Linked DNA regions of Homo sapiens. The protein of the gene in region 3 purifies or fractionates together with the protein of the main gene of each other region. This does not show direct contact. Each region holds a gene or a part of one and is shown on either strand. Other genes may lie near its edges.

Region 1 (7,958 bases), on a different chromosome or scaffold from region 3:
TACTGTTTCCCCAGATCTCTGCCCGGCTCCCTCTGCTCAGACCTGTTTATCTGCAAGGCCATCTCTGAGCACTGTGGCAATACCCTGCCCTCCCTGTTATTCTCTGGTCCCCATCCTGGTTTATTTTTCTTTGAAGTCTTTATTACTGACATATCATGTGTGTACTTGTTCTTTATCTGTTTCCCACATTTAGAATGTTTGCTTCAGGAGAGCAGAGACTTTTTGTTCACAGACATGTTTACCCAAGATCTGAGCAACTGGTTGATGAATGAATGAACTACCTTCTGTCCTCAATTCATCCACTTGTTCAGCTTAGTGCCCTACCCTGCACTGGGCTCTGGGGCATCTAGTCATGATAGGTAAGTCCCCACTCTTACACTCTCACGGAGCCTCCGGTTTAAAGGAAAACAGGCAGTCAATAAGAATCACAAATAAATAAGCATTTGTGCAAATGGAGGTGTTACAAAAGAGAAGTACAGCACACAATGATAACATAAAGCATGGGGACTTAACCCTAGTTGGATAAGCCAGAGAGGCTTTTCAGAGGAGGTGACATTTGAACTGAGCCCTGAAACATGAGTGGGGGACTGGCCAGGGAAAGAGCCTTTCAAACAGTGGGAACAGCACGTGTGAAGGCGCTGAGGAAGGAGGGAGCGTCACACATGGGAGGAACATGGAGGGGACAACAGTGTGGAAGCTCTAGTGATGGAGGGGAGAGGAGGGTGGGCCTGCCGGCCTCATTAAGGAGTCTGGAGTGCATGCTCTGAGTGAGCAACAGTGAGTCAGGACGGGTCTGCAGTTGGGCAGGGAGCTGGAACCACACACCCTCTCTCCAGACTTCTTGGTCAAGTGATCTGTGGCCTCCTACTCTGCTCCAGCTGCTGATCCTGTGTCTTGTGTGGGCCCCTCCCTTCTCCCCACCTCTGCATGGGCCCAGCCCCCTCTAGCTCAGCAAGCCCATCTCCCCACCTGCAGCGTGAGTACCAGGACCCCAAGCTTCACCCGCTCAACTTGCTCATCACCCTCTTCCCACCTGAACCAGCCTCCTCCAGTTCCACATGGCCATCAACGGCCCTGCCATTCTCCTGTGACCCCCTGGGACAGGGCAGAGGGGTAGTGCCATCATCCACTTCTCCAACAGTTACAGTCACTCTAGCCTCAAAGTCTCTCCCATGGGAGACTTGCAGTAAATTACTCTGTAAGCCTCAGTTTCTTCTGTTTCATCAGGGGTGGGGGGATAATATCCACAGCCTAGGGTTTTAAGGATACAAGAAAAGGGCCTAGCACGAAGCCTGGCACAGAGTCAGCTTCTTCCTTAAAAACACCCTCCTTCCTCATGGTCCCTCACAGGCATACATCCCTGACTCTCCCCTGTGGTTCCCATTAGCTCGAATTGGAACTGAATCCCACACCTCTCCTTCATGGCAGCCTACACTCTTCCTTCTTCAGATGAGCTACTTCGTTCCTTCATTAAATAAGCATTCATTGGGCATTTACTATGCCCTTGGCACAGAAAGACAAGAAAGATCTCGTGCCTGCCCCTTAAGAAGGTCGCAATCCAATTCAAGGTGGATCTACAGGGATTGGGTAAAGGGGTTTTTTGCACACAGGCTTCGGAATCAGATCTGTGCTCAGGTCCTGTGCCTACCACTCATTTAGCCTTGGTTTCCTCACACAAAAAACAGGAATAATAACACCGCCTGCTTCACAGGGCTGACGTGCAGATTAAGCGTGATGACACATGCTGTTCCATGTTTGAAAGGCTGTTGACTGGTAAATCCTTATTAAGGCTGTTGACTGGTAAATCCTTATATAATCAGTGCTCAGTAATACTTTTTATCTTAAAGGCAAATAACTGTAATAGACTATATTGGATGAAGACCTCACTGCTTTGATCAAGTAATGGCTGGTTTACTTGCTTCTGCTTCTCTCACTAGAGAGGGCAGACAACGGTAAATGTCTGTTGAACGAATACAGACCTGAGGTGCTACAGGAGAGGCCCATAGGGACCCTGAGGAGGAAAGGCATCAGAGAAATTGATCTTTGAGGGCCTGGCCCCACCCTCTCCGGGATCCCAGGGCATTTTACCACATTCTGATTGTAATTACCTGTTTGCTAACATCCCCACTAACGTGAGCTCTCTCTAACCCTGGGGCTATTCTCCAGGCTGCAGCAGGGCAAAGGCGGGGTCCCAACACCATAGAGAACGCCACCCCTGTCCATGCTGTCCCCCACTTCACCTTTTCTTGGAGCGGTCCTTCCACACTCGCCCCGATTTGGGCTTCCCCTTCGGGATTACAGGAAGCTCCTCTTTATTCAACTTCTTGGACGCTGGGGCCTGGGATGAAGAACCTTTTCGCTTCTTTGCCCCGAAGCCGCCTGTCACCGTCTCCCCAGCTGGAGGTGGCTTGCTCGGCTCATGCTGACCCCGGGGGGAGCCAGGTGCCCTGGGTGTCAGCTCCAGTAGTGGCTGAGAGGGCTCCGGACCGGGAGCTTGCTGACCGGGGTAAGGCTCTGGTGATCCTGGGACCGGCGGTAGCTGATGCTGGGGGGCCCCCGGGGTCAGCTCCTCCTTATTCTGGGCCAACTCCGAGGCCAGTACTCCCTGGTCCTGAGAACACTTTGGTGCCTCCTCACTTGGCTTCGGCTGACATCGTGGGGATTCAGGACTGTACTCTGGCTGTCTTTGAGGCGACTCCAGGTGTAGGTCTTGCTGACGCTGGGGGGACGCTGCGCCTGGCTCTGGCTGCCCTTGGGGTGACTCCAAGCCTGCACCCTGCTGCAGACGGGGTGATCCTGGGCTTGTCTTCGGCGGCCTTTCGGGGGACCCCAGGCCAGCCCGCTGCACACTCGGAGGAGACCCGGGCTCCCTCGTTTCTTCTGGGTTCGACTCGAACTCCACAAGGGCCCGTCTCGTCCGCGAAACTGAGGTGAGGCTCTCGGGGGATTCGGGCCTTAGGCCTCCCAGCCGTCGGCTGCGCCTTAACGGTGTATCCATGGCTCAGCCGGTAAGTTTCCACACCCCTGCGCACGTGCAGCCCCCGCCGAAACCGGCGCCTTCCTATGACGTCAGGAGTCGCCGCGTCCGTGACGCACAGGAGGGGGGCTGTTGCTGAGGCGGCCATGTTGGTGAGGGGTGGAGAGGCGGGACCGGGGTTGGGGAGAGTGGGGCTCAGCATGCGCATGCGCAATTCGCGCGAGCGCAGTCAACATGTGATTGATGAGCCAGTCTTTTTCCTGGGATTCGCTTTTGCCTTTCTTGCAAAGTTTCCTGGGGAAAGAAGAGCGAGCAAGTAGAAAAGGGAAAGTGGGAGGACCCATTTCAGGGAGAGAACAGAGTCGAAAAAAGGTCCGAGGAGCCCATAGGCAAGGCCCAGTGGATGTTTTGCAGCCAACTCCGGTGCAGTTGGGCAGAGTCCTGCCCTCCTTGGGCCTGTTTTCTCATTTGTAATAGGGGTCATTTTGCACTAGCTTCGTGCATCCCAAATGATCCTGTCAGAGTCCTCCTCCCACCTACCTGAGGGACTGCTACCTGGGGGTCCTGGAGGTGGAAGATCGGTCTTTTCTGTGTTAATTGTTCACACTCTTGATTCTTCCGTCCTGTGCTTCCGTATATAATCCATAGCTCTCCCTCCCTTTTCAGCGTTTTCAACGTTTGTGAGGGAAGTTGAGGTACCAATAAGATGCACCACCTTTGTCCTGTGGCTCACCTGGGCCCTCGACCAGCTGCATATCCTCCCACGTCCCTCTTCTTCTACCCCAGTTCTAGAAACGGGTTGGATCATCTCCGATCTTCCTTTCAGCCCAGACAGTGGTTTTTGCTCGTGTGTGAACCTGCTTCGCCTCCCCTCCCTTCCCTTGCTATTCACCTGTAAATGTACTTTGCTTACTAAGCACTTTGGGACCTCACCAGTGAGCAGGTGTTGACTTCTGGACCTCCCAAGGCCTAGAGAAGACTCTCGGGATGTGGGGTTGGGGAATGTGGGGCTGTGGAGACTTTCGTGTGAGACCTAGGAGTGGGGCTTTGATTTACTTACAGCATGCTTCTTAGGAAGAACATCTTGGAAGTGGCCCAGTTGTGTAATTCTTGGAACTGCCTGGGGTTGGCCATTAAAGGTCCCAGGGCCCCGTCTGACATTCCAGTGGTTTCTTTTAGAAACCATTGTTTCTCCAGCTGCGGGCTTGTGAGAGGGCCTGGGAAATTGTCCAAGAATATCAGGGATCAGAGTGTCCTCATCTTCCTCATGTTCCTGAGTCAAGGAGACCCCTGCAGGGGGGCTTTGCCTGCCTCACTGCTCCTCTCCGGCCATGCAGCTGTCCACAGCAGAAGCAGCCGGGACACCTCCTTGCCCAGCTCTTCCACCCCCCAACTGTCAGAGGAGTGAGTTCCATTCAGTTCCTTAAATGCCCTGCCCCTGCCTGGAGACCCCAATGATCTGACACTCAGAACCAAGCCCGGCAGGTGTTGCCAGAGTGCTGGAGGAGACTGTATGCCCCTCTGCCCTGCTCCAGTCCCCCTTGGCTTGCCCTGCCTCCTAAGCTCTTGTCCCCAGCTGGAGGGATCACTCTCCAGTGCCGATTGGATCATATCCTAGTCTAGCCTGAAATACTTCAGAGGGTGATCTCAGGTTTTCACCAGAGAGAGGGAGATGTGTTTTAGAGGAGGCCTTTGGGTGGCCCCCAGACATTTGGAGGCACTTTGTCAACCTCAGCATCAGATGGGCTCTGGCCCAGAACCCCCTACTCCCACATGAGCTCAGTTTGTCATTGTCATTATACATGGTGTGCAGAGGCCCAGAGGAGACTCCTGAAATTTTCAGAAGCGCCTGGTGTGGCGATCGCTGTTGGGACCCTGTCTCCTTACACTCCTTTGCTTTCTTTTAAAAATTATTATTATTTTTGAGACAGGGTCTTGCTCTGTTGTCCAGGCTGGAGTGCAGTGGCACAATCACAGCTCACTGCAGCCTTGACCTCCCAGGCCCCAGGGATCCTCCCACCTGAGTAGCTGGCACCACAGGCTCATGCCACCATGCCTGGCTATTTTTTTTTTTTTGTAGAAACGGGGTCTCCCTGTGTTGCTCAGGCTGGTCTTGAACTCCTGGGCTCAAGTGATCCTCCTGCCTCGGCCTCCTGAAGTGTTGGGATTACAGGCGTGAGCCACTGTGCCTGGCCACTCCTTTGCTTTTATTGCAGCTTTCTACATCACAGCTTTCTTGCCTTTAGGTGGTAGGATACTGAGGGGCTTCTCTGTAGCCCCCAGAGGCCACCAACAGGATTGAACTTGCATTGCCCACAAAGGTAATCTGCTCATGGACCCTCTTTTGGCTTCATCCCTGTCTCACTTCCCCACTTTCTTATAGATGCTTGCTGAGGTCATTCTCAGAGCAGACAAATATTGTACTTAATCCTCTTCTCAGAGTTGGCTTCTGCAGAAACCTAGCCTGAAACATTGGTGCCAGCAATGATTGGTCCAGGCATTGTTTCAAGTACTCTCCAAGTACAAATCCATTTCTTAATGCTTCTCCCAACAATCCTGTGAGGCAGGTGCAGTTGTTATTACTCCCAGTTTACAGATAAAGAAACTGAGAGGCTGGGTGCGCTGGCTCACACCTGTAGTAATCCCAGTACTTTGGGAGGCCAAGGTGGGCGGATCACTGGAGGCCAGGAGTTCAAGACCAGCCTGGCCAACATGATGAAACCCCATCTCTACTAAAAGTACAAAAATTAGCTGGGTGTGGTGGCAGGCGCCTCGAGTCCCAGCTACTCAGGAGGCTGAGGCAGGGGAATTGCTTGAACCTGGGAGGTAGAGGTTGCAGTGAACCAAGATCGTGCCACTGCACAGCAACCTGGGTGGCAGAGCAAGACTCTGTCTCAAAAAAAAAAAAAAAAAAAGACTGAGGCACAGAGAGGCTGAGACACTTGTAAAGGTCACACAGCAAATAAGTGGTAGAGGCAAGATCCACACCTAGACTGTCTGATTCCAGAGCCACAACTCTTAACAGTAAATCTGCCTGTTATCCAGGCAAGGAATCAGGCATGGGAAGGCTAAGGTGCTTGCCCAAAATCAGACAGCGGCACATTCAGGAGCCAGGATTGTGGTTCCAGAGGTGGCATGCTTAGCTGCCTTGCAGCTGCCCCCACATGGGCCTTGCTCACCTATTCGTCACACTGATTCTGGTCTGTGTGCTGGGAGGAGGTGGGTACCACCTGGCACACACCATCGTGCAGAATGTGCCGAATCAGCAATACCAGTTTATTTATGTAACCTGAGATCTGCTGACTGATGGAAACCAAGCGCTGGCAGATGGATGGAAGATAGGATCAGGTGTTCTCCTCTGAGTCATTGACCTCCCCCCAGCTAAGGGGTGCTACAGTTGAGAGGGTCTGACAGTCCCCAGATGTCAGAGACCTGGGTCCCCATGGCTTTCTGTTCAACACCTAGCCTTGCCTGAAATACTTCAGAGGGTGATCTCAGGTTTTCACCAGAGAGAGGGAGATGTGTTTTAGAGGAGGCCTTTGGGTGGCCCCCAGACACTTGGAGACACTTTGTCAACCTCAGCATCAGGTGGGCTCTGGCCCAGAACCCCCTACTCCCACCTGAGCTCAGTTTGTCATTGTCATTATACATGGTGTGCAGAGGCCCAGAGGAGACTCCTGAAATTTTCAGAAGAGCCTGGTGTGGTGGTGTACTTGCAGAGTGCTTGAAACAATGCCTGGACCAATCATTGCTTGCCCCGGTGTTTCAGGCTGTGTTTCTCCAGAAGCCAACTCTGAGAGAAGGGCAGGGAAAGGGCCCCTGGCGGTCATCAGCAGCATTAACTGAGCACTTACCACGCGCCAGACCTCTTCTGGGTGCTCCTGTGCTCCCCAGAGCTCCGGTTCGGGAGGGTGATTTTCAGCAGGAGCACGGTACTTGATATGTATTTGTTGAATGAATGGATCCTCATTAGGACCTTACAGGGCTGGGGTGATCATCCTCATTGTACTGACCAGGAAATCCCACTCCCAGAGAGGCTGCGCTTCGGGGCCAGGGTGACACAAAAAGGGCGCAGGGTGAGGTCTGGAGCTCAGGGCTTCTTGACTCTAAGCCCTAAACCTCCACCTCCACCAGGCCTAGGACTGGGACATGGGGCTGACTCAGTCTGGGGTGTCATTGGCAACGAGGATGTTGCTGAGCATGGCAGGAGTGAAGGCAGGACCCAGATGGGCAGAGGTGCAACTGGGCCTCAGCTAATCTTCATTGTGCTACAAAGATCCAAGCTGCTCTGTCTTTTGCTCAAAGCTCTCTCAAGTATTTGAAGTCAGTTTTCTTGTAGCTTTTCCAGAATTGTCTTTTATCCAGGTTAAGCATCTCCTGTTCCTCCCATAACATGATAAGTCTTTGGGAAAGACACCAGTTCTCTACAATGCTTCCAGAATGTGGGGCCCAGAGCTCCTTGTGGCACTAAGGTTGACTGCCCCATGGACGGCTGAGTGGATTTGTCACCTCCCTACTCCATGATCTGTATCAGTGTGGTCAAGATCACATTCAAGCCACCCCATGGACATCTGATTGAAACCCTCAGTCTGGTTCCCGTGGCTGTCAGGCTCTCCTGCTCCCTACATCCCCTTGCTCTGATCTTGGACATGAACCGTTGGCTTTTTCGGATAGTGCAGGATTCTTCCTCTGTCCCTGTTGCATTTTGTTTTTACCTCTCTGGGAGCCCAACTCTCCTCTTTCAGTAGTTACCCCCACTTTCTCTTTTGCACGTGTGAAGAGCTGCTTCTAGGTACTTTGAATCAGGTGCCACTGAGAACGTGGAACACTACCAGGGTGATCGTGTGAGTTCTTACCGTGCATGCTTATCTCAGAGGCTCATCTATGCTGCGTGCTTCTAACAGCTCATTATCAGTTTCAGACCCTTGAGAGGAGGTGGGAAGAGACCTCAGGAGAGGGGTCAAGGGATGGGGGAGGATGG
Region 2 (7,026 bases), on a different chromosome or scaffold from region 3:
TATCTGAAGGTAAAAGGAAAATACAGTCAATGCTAACAGTTCCAAGATGCCTTAACACAAGGCAACAGGAAGAAGTAACATTATTGTCAGCAGCTGGTCTACTATACTCTAACCCAACTTAACTACTGAGCTTGGAAGAAAAAAGCAAACAGGGTTTATGAAATCTAGACTAAACCAGTATTGTAATAGGAAATAATGAAGATGTGCTAAAATATCTAACAAAAAATAAACTAAACTCTAGAAAAAAGGATGGTTCCTTGTCAAGAGAAAATAAAATGGAAATCCTGTTTTCTAAACATGAAATCCAGTTGAATTTGGAGGTGTAATAATAAAATTAGATATATACACATTTCCATATTTAGCAACTAGCATAACAAAAGGTGCCTTTTAAAAGTTCAAACTGGTGTCTCTATCCATAGTTATATAAAAATAAGCTGCTCTGTGAACCCCAAAAGGGGTTAATGTTTTTTCTGACAAATACCTGTATATATACAAGAAGTGCCTTCAGTTCAGTATCACTGGGTTCAAAAGGATATATTAAAGGTAATGTTAAAGGAGACGTTAATAAACATTCCAAAAAAGAACTTGTTACCTTTTCGGTCTGTCTTAAAATCAACTAGGATGGGTTCCTTATTGCCTTCTTTGTTTTTTCCTAATCCTTCTCCTTCTCTCCAGCCCATTTTTCTCATCAAAACGGCTCCCATTCCTCCAGTTACCGGGGCTGCTCTTAAGAACTGATCCTATCCAAAGAAAGAAAGGTAAAATGTCCCCATTTTACAGTTAGAACTTGGTGACAGATTCATTGTTTACTTTCTAAAAAGAGGAATCTTACTTTACTTCTAGATCTGTTATAGCAATTAAATGTAAATTCCTCTATACTTTATACATACTGTAGTGTGTATGTTCTGATTATTTGCACATTAACGTAATAGTATTTTGGAAGTCAAATAAGACAAGTAAATGGCAGTTTTGAAACAGTAGCCCTCGTGCCCCCCTCAAAAAAAAAAAATTAGAACACTCCTGTTTTCGTCCACTATTTAGGTTCACTGGTATCTCTTCTTAGCTTGCAAAATAAAAAGAAGGCAATGTTAAAACAATCAATGATATTAATTGTCCCAGGTGTACCTAGTTTATGAATAAAGCCCAGAAATCACTTAGAAATAGTTTAGACACTGAAGAAGCATACTGTTGTCATCCAAAGTTTTCTTCCCCATTCTACTATAAAGCAAGTATAAATATTTTACTTAGAAAATCCCTAAAGCAGAAAAAAAAAAAAAAACTCTTGAAATTTACACAGTAACAAATAGAAAACAATCACATAAAATATCCTGTAAGTATGCCAAAATGAATTTGAATTCTTTTAAAACCTAGCTTGATGTTAAAAGACTTTTAAAAAACTCCTTAAATGTTTACATACCTAGGCCTCGGTAGCAGCAGTGTTGTGAATAGTACGGCTGGCACTGACCGGGGCAAGAAGACAGCTACAAGGATTTGGCCCTGAAACAAGTTTCCATACAGAGGGGTGAAAGTTCACAGGTTATTCTGTGAACAGTCATCTCTCTTGTATCCAACCCACTGAACCATAATTTCCATCAAAGCAGCAAACCACTTAATGTCCTAAGATGCACAAGTATATATACATTAGCATGGTCAACAGTTATTTTTACAGGTTAAGAAATATTCAATGCCTCTTATTAAAGGGCATCCATGTACATATAGCAAACAGTATTAAGTTGTACTGTTGATCTTTATGGTCATTTTTTAAAAATTTGAAACATATCTCCAAATCATGCTTTATTTTCCCCTTGTTACTAAATTTTAGGTTTTTATGTTCTCTTACCAAATATATATATATATATATATATAAATATATAATATAGCAAAAGTCATTAACTTATCAACAGAGAGAGTAAAAAAACTTCAGTAGCTCAGGAAATAGTATGCACATCTCCTATATTGATAAGTTAATACTGAATGTAAAAAAGAAATGTTTGTATGCAGTAGTAAAACTGTATCTATCATCTTTTGTTTCCCAGCTTTGTAATTAAATGCTGGGGAGAAAACATGCCAATGACGTGTGACTAGACATTAAGTTCATCAAGGTGCTCTGATGGAAGGAGGCAGCTGTGGAGGTAAAAACATACCCCTGGTTCAGTTCCTTATTTGGTGCAGGCCATGCAGTGTAGATGTATAAAGAGAAAGCTGATGCTTGGATATTAACTGCCTTGATGCTACACACCTAGAATGTCTTTTACTTACTTCCAGGTTCATCCGTCCCTCTTTTCCAGGGAACACGCCTAAAAAAAAGGGCAACTGTGCAGAGTACAATATAAATCCCCAAATAACCCAGGTTTCCAATTTTGTTTCCATTCCCTAGTATCATCATCTGTTTCTTTACCCCAGTGTGAAAAAGCTGATTAATTTAATGAGACCACAATAACAAACTGTATTTATCAGGTCACATCCAAATCATTCCATTCTAGAAATAAAATTTCTTTTAAACGAACTACTTTAAATGTTTTACTGATTAATGAGACTACTGATAAAACTTTGCTTTTTTTGTAATCTAAAAATACACTGCAACAAACTAAAAAGAACACGGAGGATGTTGGTATTCCATGTGTTTTTTAACACATAAGGCAGATGCTGGACTATACTAAAGAAGAGCCAAAATGATCGTTTGACAGGTTTTCTAAACACAACTAAACATTTAATGAGTAGACAATATTTGTGATATTTAACATGGATCATACATCCTAAATTTTCAGCTGCCTAATGACTTCTACATGTTGTGGCCCATTTTTAATTTTCAAAAGTTTCTTTTTTAGTTGATACTAGCATCAAATATTCTTCAGTAATTCTATACAAATGAATCTTTTCCTTTAAGTGCTACTTTTATCTATAATTTAAAATTTGGTCTGAACATATCTTTATCTCATAATTTATCAAAATAATTTGCTTCCCAAAGTATATCTTACATAAAATATAAAGTTGAAGCCTTTTTTCAAGGTGCTACTAAACATTTTAAAGTTATTAAAGTCTGTTAACTGCCTACAAGACTGCAAATACCAGAAGAAATTATTTTAGGGGAAAACCAATTGAGTCAGTAAAAGATTCACTTTTTAAAAGTTATTTAAGTTATTAACACATTTATAAGTATACAAACATTATGGATCAGCACATCATTAGATAAAGACCAAAATTTTGTAATGGAAGCACATTCAGAAGTTTCTACCTAGCAGTGTACATGACTCTGTATTATGTGCCTATTTTAACACCCATAAGCTTTATTTCTAACTTCCTGAAATACTGGCTGAGTACTTAGCTTCAAGACTAAATAGTATTAAAGAATTAAAACTAAAGAAATAGATGTACATTTATAGTTCTTCCAAAGATGAAAGACATTTTTTCAAATATTATATAAATCACTTTCATAGTAACTATAATATAGAAGTCCAAGATTAATCCAATCTTTAAAATATTTTGCTATATACATTTTCACCCTTTATTCTAACACCAACCCTCAGCAAACTGCAGAAATTGTAATTTCTTAATGAATCTAACTGTGTACTCACTATACACATCAGTGCAACTACTTCCCAAAAAAAGGCAGGCATAATGAGTATACATGATGTTTCATATTAATTTGTTAGTAAGATCAACAAAGATAAAGCTATCAAAATTGAAATAAATGTTACAAGATTAAAATACACAAAGCAACCAATGTCTCATTTTTCAGAAATTCAGCTCATTCACTGGCACTCATAGCAACTCTCTATAGGTAACCATCACGTTACTGATTACCACTAGACACCTCAGAGACTTTGAAATTCCAAAGAGTTACTTGCCCATGATTACACAAGGAGTCAGGAGTACAACAGGATAAAGAAACCTTCCCAATCCATTAGACCACGCGGCCTCCCAGTTTCAGCACTGCTATGCTGCCAGTACTCCTGTAACAAATTTCCCATCACCCATCCAACCAAGCTTTGTCCCTTCACCACAACGCGTTTCTTCAGAATGCCCTTCTTAGCCACCTAAGACTCCCCCAATGATGAGGCAGCCGTAGGTGGAGTTCACAGGTCTCACTGCAGAATCTGAAACCAGATGCACCTACATCTTCGTAGCACGAGGCGTCCATTCTCTCCCTTGATTTTAGGTCTTACATATCTGTTTTGTCATGAAATTAGTGGTTCTCAAATTGAGCCTGTGGATCACCAGAGGCCACTAGGGCCTAAATGGTGGTCCACAGATTAATCTCCATCCCATCCCCTTCACCACAGCCCACCCCACTCCAGCCATCCTCCCTCAGGCTTCCAGTCCCATGGCAAGATCACCACATGCAGAGCTAATACTAGGGCCTCCCAACCACTTGCTGTAACCAGCAGCTGACAACCAAAAGGTCCTGGGGCTACAGGTCACAAGAGGAGTGAGGAACGGGGGCCAAGAGATCTTACAAGAAGGCACAGGCACTAATGAAGCGGGTGGGGTGCGAGGGCAAAGGAATAGAGGAATGGAAAATTAAGGTGGTAGAGGGCTCTTGGGGGCAGTGATCCACTAAAAATAAACCTGTAATAAAGTATCCCATGATGAAGAAAAATTTGAGAACCACTGCTTTGAAATGATTAGGTTAGTAGTCCAGCAGGAACTGTGGAATATTCTGAACAGCACCTGATACACTATTAGCGTTCAAAATAAAGTTAAATCACCCCTTCAAAAGCAGCAGTAACAATTTTTAAAATAACCTTATAAGTTAGTGGCTCTTGAGCCACATTTATACATTTGCCATTTTCTCATGAATCCAGTCCGTCTTCAGTGTCCGCCCTGGAGCATATACACATAGCAAATTTACTTGGAACTTTGGTTAGAGTCACTGGTCTTTTCATGCAGTTTTAATAAACAGTTTCCAAAAAATTTAAACTTTTTGTTCGACACTTTCATATGTGCATATACTGTGTACCTTTTTAATCCAGGCTTGGGCACCAGTATTGGCCAACTGTTCTTGTGTCAAAACCTGTACTCCTGTACTTCCTGTGAACTGGCCAGGAATAGAGTTCAGCTGAGCCCAGGCATCAATCTGAAGAAAAGAAGTAGTCTCAGTTAACTAAGTAAAATTACCTGATTAAAACATCACTGGTAATAATTCACTAAAAATGGCTGAAAAGCAGACTTAAATATTTAACTTTTAAAACATATTTAACATTAAATGTTTGCCTAAACTTTCTAAAGAAGCAGTTTGACAACATTTAGTGAATCCCATTAATAAGATTTTGAAATGTATCTAAAAGCACAGCTACTAAAAAATACAGCTGTTAATATTCTTCAAACTATCACACAGATACACTAAAAATGCAAAAAAGAGCTCATATGACAATGGGTCCCCACCCTCCCTTCCTATCTCATACAAATGTATTGTAATACATGTCATGACAGCCTGGATTCTTAATTACTTCCTTTGAGACATTTATACAGACTAAATTCATGACACAGGTTTAAAGAGTTTAAATGTAGGAAACTGTCCACTTGAATACATAAACGACTATTTTTTTTTGAGATGGAGTTTCTCTCTTGTTGCCCAGGCTGGAGTGCAATGGTGCGATGTCTGCTCACTGCAACCTCCTCCTCCCGAGTTCAAGCGATTCTCCTGCCTCAGCCTCCAGAGTAGCTGGGATTGATTACAAACATGCGCCACCGCGCCCGGCTAATTTTGTATTTTTAGTCGAGACAGGGTTTCTCCATGTTAGTCAGGCTGGTCTTGAACTCCTGACCTCAACTGATCCGCCCGCCTCGGCCTTTCAAAGTGCTGGGATAACAGGCGTGAGCCACTGCACCCGGCCGTAAAACAACTTTTTAAAGAAGCTTGTATACTTTTTTTCAGTCACCAACATTTGTTGTGATAAAGATCAGCTGTCATTCACACAAATTAGATTTACTAAACACCTTGCACTGTCAGCAATGTATTTCCTGTCTGAACATGTACTTACTGATTTACCATAAAACAGTAGAAATGAAATGGAGAGGCTGTCCATTGTTAAAAGCACAGACTCCAGATTCAGATTGCTTGGGTTTGAATCCCAGTTCCCCCACTAATTAGTTGTGTGACTATGGATATCACTTAATCACTCTTTTGTTTTTTTTAGACAGTCTCACTCTGTTGCCCAGGCTGGAGTACAGTGGCGCGATCCTGGCTCACTGCAACCTCTGCCTCCCAGGTTCAAGCATTTCTCCTGCCTCAGCCTCCTGAGTAGCTGGCATTACAGGCATGCAACACCAAACCCAGCTAATTTTTGTATTTTTAGTAGAGATGGGGTTTCATCACCTTGGCCAGGCTGGTCTTGAACTCCTGACTCCTTGCCCCCACCTCGGCCTCCCAAAGTGCTGGGATTACAGGCATCAGCGACCATGCCTGGCCTTAACCACCCTTTACTTCAGTTTTCTCGGCTGAAATATGGCAACTATTAATACCTACACATTTCATAGGGTTGTAGGCACTTAGTTGTTTTTATACACCAGATTGTAAACTCTGTGAGGACAGGGAAATTTTTCTATTTTGTTCTCTCAAGAAACAGTTCCTGCCACATAGTAAACAATAAACATTTATTGAATAAATGATCAGGCCTCGAATCACTTTCATTTAAAATAAGACATTGAAAATAAGGTAAAGGATGTTACAACTCAACCATCTAGTTAGCAAAATTCTTATTTAGACATTAAAACTGGTACATTGGTGTGAGTTGGCTGATGGTAAATAATAATTTTTTTTAAAAAACTGCTACATACCCTTTCCTGAGCTCTATTTAACATGCTCATGGCTTCAAGATCAAATGCATTCTCACTGAGTCTTTTCTGAGCAAGTGCCCGTTCACTCATTGCTGTAGAGATGTCCACAGGCTAAGAAAGAAAACAGAGATAATTATCTCAAATTACCATAGTCCCCTAAATTCTGAAAAGTACTCATATCTTTAGTTGCTACATATCAAAAACAAAATAATAGTCTTATAATACTAATAATCTTGGAAAACAGGG
Region 3 (7,875 bases):
AAGGGCACCCCCTTCTCCCAGAGGCCCTCAGTGCATGCCCTAGACCTTGGTGAGAGAGCCAGCCCTGCCCACCCACCCCAGGGACCCTTCCCTACCCCTCCGGCACCTGGAGCCCCTCAACTGTGTCTTACTATGAGTGTGGGGCGTGGAGAGCAGGCTGTAGACTATCTGCTTCCCTGACTCCCTCCAGAGTGGCGCTCAGGCCTGGCTGGTCACCTGACCCTATCGGACGAAGACTTGACCTCCGTGACCCAAAACCACTGGAAGAGACTCAACACCTTGCAACACTACAAGGTGTGAGCAGGGACGGGGCGAGGCAGGGCGGGGCTGGGGCGGGGCAGGGCGAGGCAGGGCAGGGCGGGGCTGGGGCGGGGCGAGGCAGGGCGGGGCTGGGGCGGGGCGAGGCAGGGCGGGGCTGGGGCGAGGCGGGGCAGGGCGGGGCTGGGGTGGGGAGGGGCGAGGCAGAGCAGGGCAGGGCTGGGGCGGGGCGAGGCACGGCAGGGCGAGGATGGGGCGGGGCGAGGCAGGGCGGGGCTGGGGCGGGGATGGGGGGCGGGGCGGGGCGAGGCAAGGCAGGGAAGGGCAGGGATGGGGTGGGGCAGGGTGAGGCGAGGCAGGGCAGGGCGGGTCTGGGGCGGGGAAGGGCGAGGCAGGGCAGGATGTGGGCGGTGTAGGCGCCTGGCTAGGGGTCAGCACAGCCTCCGCTCCCCATCTCTGCCAGGTCCCAGATGGAGCAACAGTGGGGCTCGTCCCTCAGCTGCACCGTGGCAGCACCATCTCCCAGAGCCTGGCCCAGAGGTGCCCCTTGGGAGAGAGTGAGTCCCTCGGCCCTGACCTGGGGCCACTGGAGTCCAGGCTGGGCAGGCAGAACTCCTGGCCATGCATCTGCCTCAACTTCATCCCCCACCCCACCGAGATCTTCTGCCCATCTCCTTCCTTTCTTCCAGTCCCCACACTGCCCCACCTTGTCGGGGGAGTGGACTGGGCATCCCAGGCCAGGGGCAGGGGGTATAGCCCTGAAGCCAGGCTCCTGTGCCCTCAGACATACCCACGCTGGAGGATGGCGAGGAGGGGGGGGTGTGCCTCTGGCACCTGGTGAAAGCCACCGAGGAGCCAGAAGGGGCCAAGGTGCGGTGCAGCAGCCTGCGGGAGCGCGAGCCAGCAAGGGCCAAGGCCATTCCGGAAATCTACCTCACCCGTCTGCTGTCCATGAAGGTTGGTGCGGCCTGGGTGGCTGGGCCTGAGAGGAGGCTCAGCCAGGGACCCCGACCGAGCCAGGGTGTGGGAGGGGCAGGGGCAGCCTCAGCCGTGGATGGCCCCCACACCCTGCCCTCCACACAGCCCTTATCCCCTGCCTCGCAGGGCACGCTGCAGAAGTTTGTGGACGACACCTTCCAGGCCATTCTCAGCGTGAACCGGCCCATCCCCATCGCCGTCAAGTACCTGTTTGACCTTCTGGATGAGCTAGCAGAGAAGCACGGCATCGAGGACCCAGGGACCCTGCACATCTGGAAGACCAACAGGTGCCTTTCCTGCTGCCCCACCCCTGCTGTGCATATGGTCCACTGAGTCCCAGAGAGACCAGGACATTCCCAGGGTGGATGCGCCCACCTGGGGTTTCTGGAACTTACAGGAAGATCTAGGGCCCAGGTCACCTAGGCCACCAGGCCAGCTTCCAGCGGCCCCTGGCTCCGAGTGTGTTGCCAGTAGGCTGGAGTACATGGGGCGGAGATCACGATGGCAGGCCAGGGCCTCACGCCCACGCCTGCCCTGCGCCCCCAGTCTGCTGCTGCGGTTCTGGGTGAATGCCTTGAAGAACCCACAGCTCATCTTTGATGTACGGGTGTCGGACAATGTGGACGCCATCCTTGCTGTCATCGCCCAGACCTTCATTGACTCCTGTACCACCTCGGAGCATAAAGTGGGCCGGGTGAGAGCAGTGCCAGCAGCAGCAGCTGGCAGGGGCTTGAGGAGGAAAGGCTTATGGGGGAAGCCTAGAGGGCTGTGCACAGAGCTCTGGGTGGGCAGTGGCAGCATCATGGGGGCACCTTCACCTCCGAGCTCATGCCTAGCGCCTCCCCTCCCTCCGGAGCAGGATTCCCCAGTGAACAAACTGCTCTACGCCCGGGAGATCCCACGCTACAAGCAGATGGTGGAGAGGTGGGTGTCAGAGGCATCGGGGCTGCGGGGAAGGGGGCTGCCCCACCCCTAACGAAGTCTGCTCCTCCAGGTACTATGCGGACATTCGCCAGAGCTCTCCGGCGAGCTACCAGGAGATGAACTCTGCTTTGGCTGAGCTCTCCGGGGTGAGGCATGGCCCGGGGGGTGCGCCTGTCCACACGTGGGTGGAAAGACTAGCAGAGCAGAGGGGGGAGACTTGGGGCTTGAGGACCAGGCTGGGACCTCACTGCCCCCCTCCACGTGGTGCCCCCAGAACTACACTTCTGCTCCCCACTGTCTGGAGGCTCTGCAAGAACTCTACAACCACATCCACAGGTACTATGATCAGGTGAGGCCCAGGGCACTCCGGAGGGGAGGCACAGTGGAGCGGGAGGCCCGTGGACCCTCCCGGGGGAGCAGGGGTGCCAGCCCATGCTGGCGGGGCCCAGGCTGGGGAAGGGACTCGGCTTTCATTCTGATTCCCCAGGGAGACGCCAGGCAGCCCCTGCTGGATCCCCAGGCTCCTGCGGTGATGGAAGCAGGGTGGGTGGCCCTGGGCCAGCAGGCAGAGGGGCAGGCTCAGACAGGCACCCTCCTCTGCCCGGGCAGATTATCAGTGCCCTGGAGGAGGACCCTGTGGGCCAGAAGCTGCAGCTGGCCTGCCGCCTGCAGCAGGTCGCCGCCCTGGTGGAAAACAAAGTGACTGACCTGTGAGCTCTGGCTCAGACAGCAGCAAGCCGGATCCACCAACACCGCAGCGCCTTATGACCCCGGAACCGAGCCAGCCACTGAGGGGAGCTGGCAGAGCCTGGGGGCACAGGGTGCAAAGCCAGGCACTGTGCCCAGCAGTGGGCTCCCTGCCTGCCACCTCCCCTGCCAGCCCACCCACCTTCCCCCCACCTGAGATTGTTTCTAATTTATAAGGATCCCCCTCCTTCCCCCTCTCCCCATTGTATTTATTTGCCTGCTGGAAAATCACATCCGGAAATAAAATAGAAATATGTCTTTTTATTTTATTTTGAGACGGAGTCTCGCTCTCTCTCCCAGGCTGGAGTGCAGTGGCGCAATCTCGGCTCACTGCAACCTCTTTTTCCCGGAGTTCAAGCAATTCTCCTGCCTCAGCCTCCCGAGTAGCTGGGACTACAGGCGTGTGCCACCACACCCGACTAATTTTGGTATTTTTAGTAAAGACAGGGTTTCCCCATGTCGGACAGGCTGGTCTCAAAACTCCTGACTTCAGGTGATCTGCCCGCCTCAGCCTCCCAAAGTGCTGGGATCACAGGCATGAGCCACCGCGCCTGGCCAGAAATGTCTTTTGACAAAGGGCCCAATCCCCAGCCCCTGCTGTTCCCTGCAGGAGCTGACTCAGTGCTCTCCTGACTGAGAGTCCCTCAGCCCCATGCCTATAACCTGCTACCCACAGACAAAGAGAGGCCATCAGGTACCCGGGCTTCACTTTCCCTCCCACTCTCTGACCTCGCTGGCCCCTCCAGCAATGCCTGGCCCACCCCTACCAGTTCACGGACCCTGGTACAGGGACACTGCACCAATATCTTGGGACAAACACCCTCTCTGCCGAGCCCCCTCCCTTTCATTGGGACTCCTCTGTCAGGCCCCAGCTGGCCTCCCGGCTCCACCCTCGCCTCTCCATTCCCTTGTCCTTGAAGTGGCCAGAGTGATCTTTTGCTGAGCAGAAGCTCAGTGACCACCCCCCAACCCCATATCACCCAAGCTCCACATTAAGCCTACAGACACCAGGCCTCTAGTCCTCGCCCTCGAACCATGCGGCAGCCGTGGCCAGCACGTGAAGGGCTGGAACGCGTCTTGGCCGCAGGCCTTGCCCCACTGTGCCCTGTGCTGCCCTGGATGCTTCTGGGGACCCAATTTCTCCTGGTCTCTCATGATGCAGCCCCTGGGTCACAGGCCCCTCAGTCACCACCGCACTCATGGGGAAGTGGCTATGGGCTTGCTTGTCCCCAGCAGTGAGCAGCTTCCTGCTGCCTCCCTCATGTCTGGCTATGGAGCAGCCCACGACAGGCACCTTGCAAATGGTGGAGAGGAAGAGCAGGCGCTGGGAGCCAGAGCGCCAGGCAGCGTCGCAGGAGCAGGTTCTGGGCTGGCAAGCTCCCAGGCCTCCCCTCAGCAGGCCTGTTGCCTCTGGTAGGGGAAATGAGGGGTCCCCAGTGACGCCACATTCAGAGGGCACTGGACTCCCAGTTGTCCTAGGGGCTGATGAAACATAGAAGAAGCAGGAAGTGGCTGGGAGCAGCCAGGGACAGGGTTCCCATGGGAATGAGAAGGGCACCTCCAGGAGGATGCCCACAGGGGCACAGGTGGTGGGGGCTTGGCCTAAGGACCAGGTTGCCAAGTGGAGCACATCCCCACAGTCCGCACCGGAGAACGGGAGCCCGACCTGGGGTACGGGCTGCTTCACCCCCGCGTGGACCTCCCCCTCAGCTGGGGTGCGGAGGCTCAGCCTGGGGGCCCAGTTGCCCCTGGTCCCCAAGCAGCAGCCCCCTCTGCCTCCAGGGTGGGCCTGGAGCAGGAGGGGGGCCTCTGCCCGGGGGCCGGGCTCTCTGGGGCCGCCGTCGCGCCGCCCCCTCCCCGCACCGCATACCTTGCCCACAGCCGAGCAGCTGGGAGGCTATTTATAAAGGCGGGTGAGATCAGCGGCCGGCCAAGGCTATAAATTCGCAGGCCGCGGCCGGGCCCCACAGGAGCAGCCGCCCGGGGCACCGGAGCTGCGGGCTGCGTGGCCGGGATGAGCGCCAGCACGGGCGGTGGTGGGGACAGCGGCGGCAGCGGCGGCAGTAGCAGCAGGTAGGGCTCGGCTGGGGCACCCGGAGCCCCTGGCGTCTCTCATGCCCACTGCCACTCACCCCACCCGCAGCTCACAGGCCTCCTGCGGGCCCGAGTCCTCGGGCTCCGAACTAGCCCTGGCCACACCGGTGCCTCAGATGCTGCAGGGCCTTCTGGGCTCCGACGACGAGGAACAGGAAGACCCCAAAGACTACTGCAAGGGTGAGACTTGGCCTTGGGGACATGCGGCCTCACGGCCACTGCAGGGACCCAGGGCAGTCCTGGGCCCACATGGGCCAGATGGTCAATGGGGCCGAGGTGTTCGGGGGCCCAGGGGAGTGAGAACCCCCTCCACCCCAATCTACATCTCCCCTGGGCAGGCGGCTACCACCCTGTGAAGATCGGCGACGTGTTCAATGGGCGGTACCACGTGGTGCGCAAACTGGGCTGGGGCCACTTCTCCACCGTCTGGCTCTGCTGGGACATCCAGTGAGTGCCTCCTTCGCCTCCGGGGCCCAGCACTGGCTGGGATCCTGTCCCTGGGCTTGCTTGGGGCCACCCTGATCCCCGCCGTGGGTCCTGCCAGGGCCACAGCCTACAAGGGTCTCGGTATTGCAGGCGCAAGCGCTTTGTGGCCCTCAAAGTGGTGAAGAGTGCGGGGCATTACACGGAGACAGCTGTGGATGAGATCAAGCTCCTGAAATGTGTGAGGCACCTCCCTACCCCACTCCCAGCTCCCCTGGAGCTGCCTGGGGCCTGGCAATGCGGGTGCAAGGCCTGCCGGGGCTCTGTGGGGCAGGGCGGGGCTCCCTGAGGGGCAGCCTCCAGCTGGCTGTGCCCAAGGGGGAGGATCTGGAGGAACAGGCGAGGGACAGGAGGGGTTGGCGGCCTTTCTTCCAGCAGGGCCCAGCTGGAGCAGGAGAAGGGTACACTGAAGGGAGCTGTGGGCTTCAGGGCAGGGTGGAACCATCTGTGGCCCCTTGGCTTTTGCTCCAGGTCCGGGACAGCGACCCCAGTGACCCCAAAAGAGAGACCATTGTCCAGCTCATTGATGACTTCAGGATCTCAGGAGTCAATGGAGTCCGTATCCTTTGCAGGAAGAGCAAAGCAGTGTGGCAGCCAAGGGCCGGCAAATGGGGGGGCCCTCGCTGCTAGAGCCTGTCTGCAGACCCGCACAATGGGCTTGCATCCCTCCCAGTAACGGGAGCCTCTGGCACGACCCCGCCCCCAGGTAACTGTGTTTACGTGGAGGCAGTAACAAGCTAGCGTTGATTGTCCATGGACGTTGCTATTATCCCCAAACGGCAGGTGCTGTCTCTGTGGCACTGCCTTCCCTTTGGGGGACTGCCAAGAGGCCCTATGGCATAACTAGCATGGGAGTGGGCTGGCCCGAGAGGCCTCTGTGCCTGCTCCTCCAGCGCCACCTCTAGGATGACCACAAAATGCACCATCCCAACTGGCATACCTGTTGAGACTGACAGGGACACTATCGATGATGACACCAGCATAATGGTGACCAGGACTGCCCAGGGGAGGCCCTGCCTCCCCACCTCCACACGGCCCAAGCCTTGCTGCTCCCCTAGCTGAGGGTGGGTGGGGCCTGTGCCGCAGCTGGTGTCCACTGGCCGCCCTTCACTCCCAGCCCAGATGTGTGCATGGTGCTGGAGGTGCTGGGCCACCAGCTCCTCAAATGGATCATCAAGTCCAACTACCAGGGCCTGCCCGTGCCCTGCGTGAAGAGCATCGTGAGGCAGGTGAGTGCCACCCACTGGGCTGCCCAGCCTGGCCTGGGCGGGAGTTGGAGGAGGTCAGGTGCGACTCTCTGCAGGTGCTGCACGGCCTGGACTACCTCCACACCAAGTGCAAGATCATCCACACGGACATCAAGCCCGAGAACATCTTGCTGTGTGTGGGGGACGCTTACATCAGGCGCCTGGCTGCCGAGGCCACGGAGTGGCAACAGGCAGGGGCGCCGCCCCCCTCCCGCTCCATAGGTACCAAGGGCCCACATGGGGCTGGGTCGGGGCCTCTGGGCCTGAACCCCTGCCTGAGTCTCTGTTCCTCCCTGTCCCCCCCCACCGCTCCCCACCTGCACTCCCAGTCAGCACTGCCCCCCAGGAGGTCTTGGTAAGTTGGGGGGCCCCTCTCTCCCATGCCTCCTCTCCCATCTGAGCCAACTGGAGGCCATCTCTGGAGCCACAGTGGCTCCACCCCCCACCTTCACGCACTCCCACGGTGGTAATCCCGAAAGGCTGGGTGGCTGGGCTGACGGTAATTCCCGGGGGGGGTCAAGTGCCCCAAACTGCTCTTGGTGAAAGGATGCTGTCTTCCCCGAATGGCCACTTCCGCCTGCCTTAGCTTGGGCTGAGAGGGGACAGAGAGCACCCTGAGGCGGGCCGGCCAGGTCTTCCCACTCCTAATGGAGCTGTGGGGAGTGGGGCCACAGGCGGGGAGGCAGGGAGAGTAGTGAGTAGCTGGTGCCAAGGGGCGCTGGCGCCACATTCTGGTGTCCATGGGAGCCCTGGGGCCCGGAGAGGCCTCTTCCCTGGCGGCTGTGCAGGGAAACCTCCACTTCATGCTGACTGGGGCGGGCGACAGGAACCCTGGGGTGACCCTGGCTCTGACAGCAGACCGGTAAGCTGTCCAAAAACAAGAGGAAGAAGATGAGGCGCAAACGGAAACAGCAGAAGCGGCTGCTGGAGGAGCGGCTGCGGGACCTGCAGAGGCTGGAGGCCATGGAGGCTGCCACCCAGGCTGAGGGTGAGGGGCCACAGAGGGTGATGGGCCGTGGAGCGCAGCAAAGGCTGCAAGACATCTGCTCAGCAGCTGCCTCCACCCCGTCTCCCCAGACTCTGGCTTGAGACTAGACGGGGGCAGCGGCTCCACATCCTCTTCAGGCTGTCACCCCGGGGGCGC

The links.
Region 1: the proteins of SRPK3 (region 3) and CCDC86 purify together in Homo sapiens (affinity purification with mass spectrometry; 3 studies listed by BioGRID and IntAct, with this or other methods). This does not show direct contact.
Region 2: the proteins of SRPK3 (region 3) and SON purify together in Homo sapiens (affinity purification with mass spectrometry; 3 studies listed by BioGRID and IntAct, with this or other methods). This does not show direct contact.

What each region holds. Positions count from the first base shown.
Region 1 is NC_000011.10:60,837,165-60,845,122, reverse strand, and holds the start of CCDC86 (coiled-coil domain-containing protein 86), read right to left. Parts: upstream 3,011-7,958; 5' UTR 2,999-3,010; coding exon 2,241-2,998; intron 1-2,240.
Region 2 is NC_000021.9:33,567,022-33,574,047, reverse strand, and holds part of SON (protein SON), read right to left. Parts: intron 6,892-7,026; coding exon 6,781-6,891; intron 5,078-6,780; coding exon 4,961-5,077; intron 1,498-4,960; exon of another isoform or gene 1,418-1,497; intron 741-1,417; coding exon 593-740; intron 1-592. UniProt on the Homo sapiens protein: RNA-binding protein that acts as a mRNA splicing cofactor by promoting efficient splicing of transcripts that possess weak splice sites.
Region 3 is NC_000023.11:153,776,166-153,784,040, forward strand, and holds the start of SRPK3 (SRSF protein kinase 3), read left to right. Parts: upstream 1-4,875; 5' UTR 4,876-4,921; coding exon 4,922-4,980; exon of another isoform or gene 4,981-5,050; coding exon 5,051-5,181; exon of another isoform or gene 5,182-5,339; coding exon 5,340-5,448; exon of another isoform or gene 5,449-5,577; coding exon 5,578-5,665; exon of another isoform or gene 5,666-5,955; coding exon 5,956-6,043; exon of another isoform or gene 6,044-6,606; coding exon 6,607-6,713; exon of another isoform or gene 6,714-6,787; coding exon 6,788-6,953; exon of another isoform or gene 6,954-7,060; coding exon 7,061-7,086; exon of another isoform or gene 7,087-7,586; coding exon 7,587-7,719; intron 7,720-7,808; coding exon 7,809-7,875. Other genes in the region: PLXNB3 (plexin-B3), read left to right, coding at 1-49, 191-294, 722-815, 1,043-1,215, 1,363-1,523, 1,783-1,930, 2,096-2,160, 2,231-2,306 and 2 more. UniProt on the Homo sapiens protein: Serine/arginine-rich protein-specific kinase which specifically phosphorylates its substrates at serine residues located in regions rich in arginine/serine dipeptides, known as RS domains.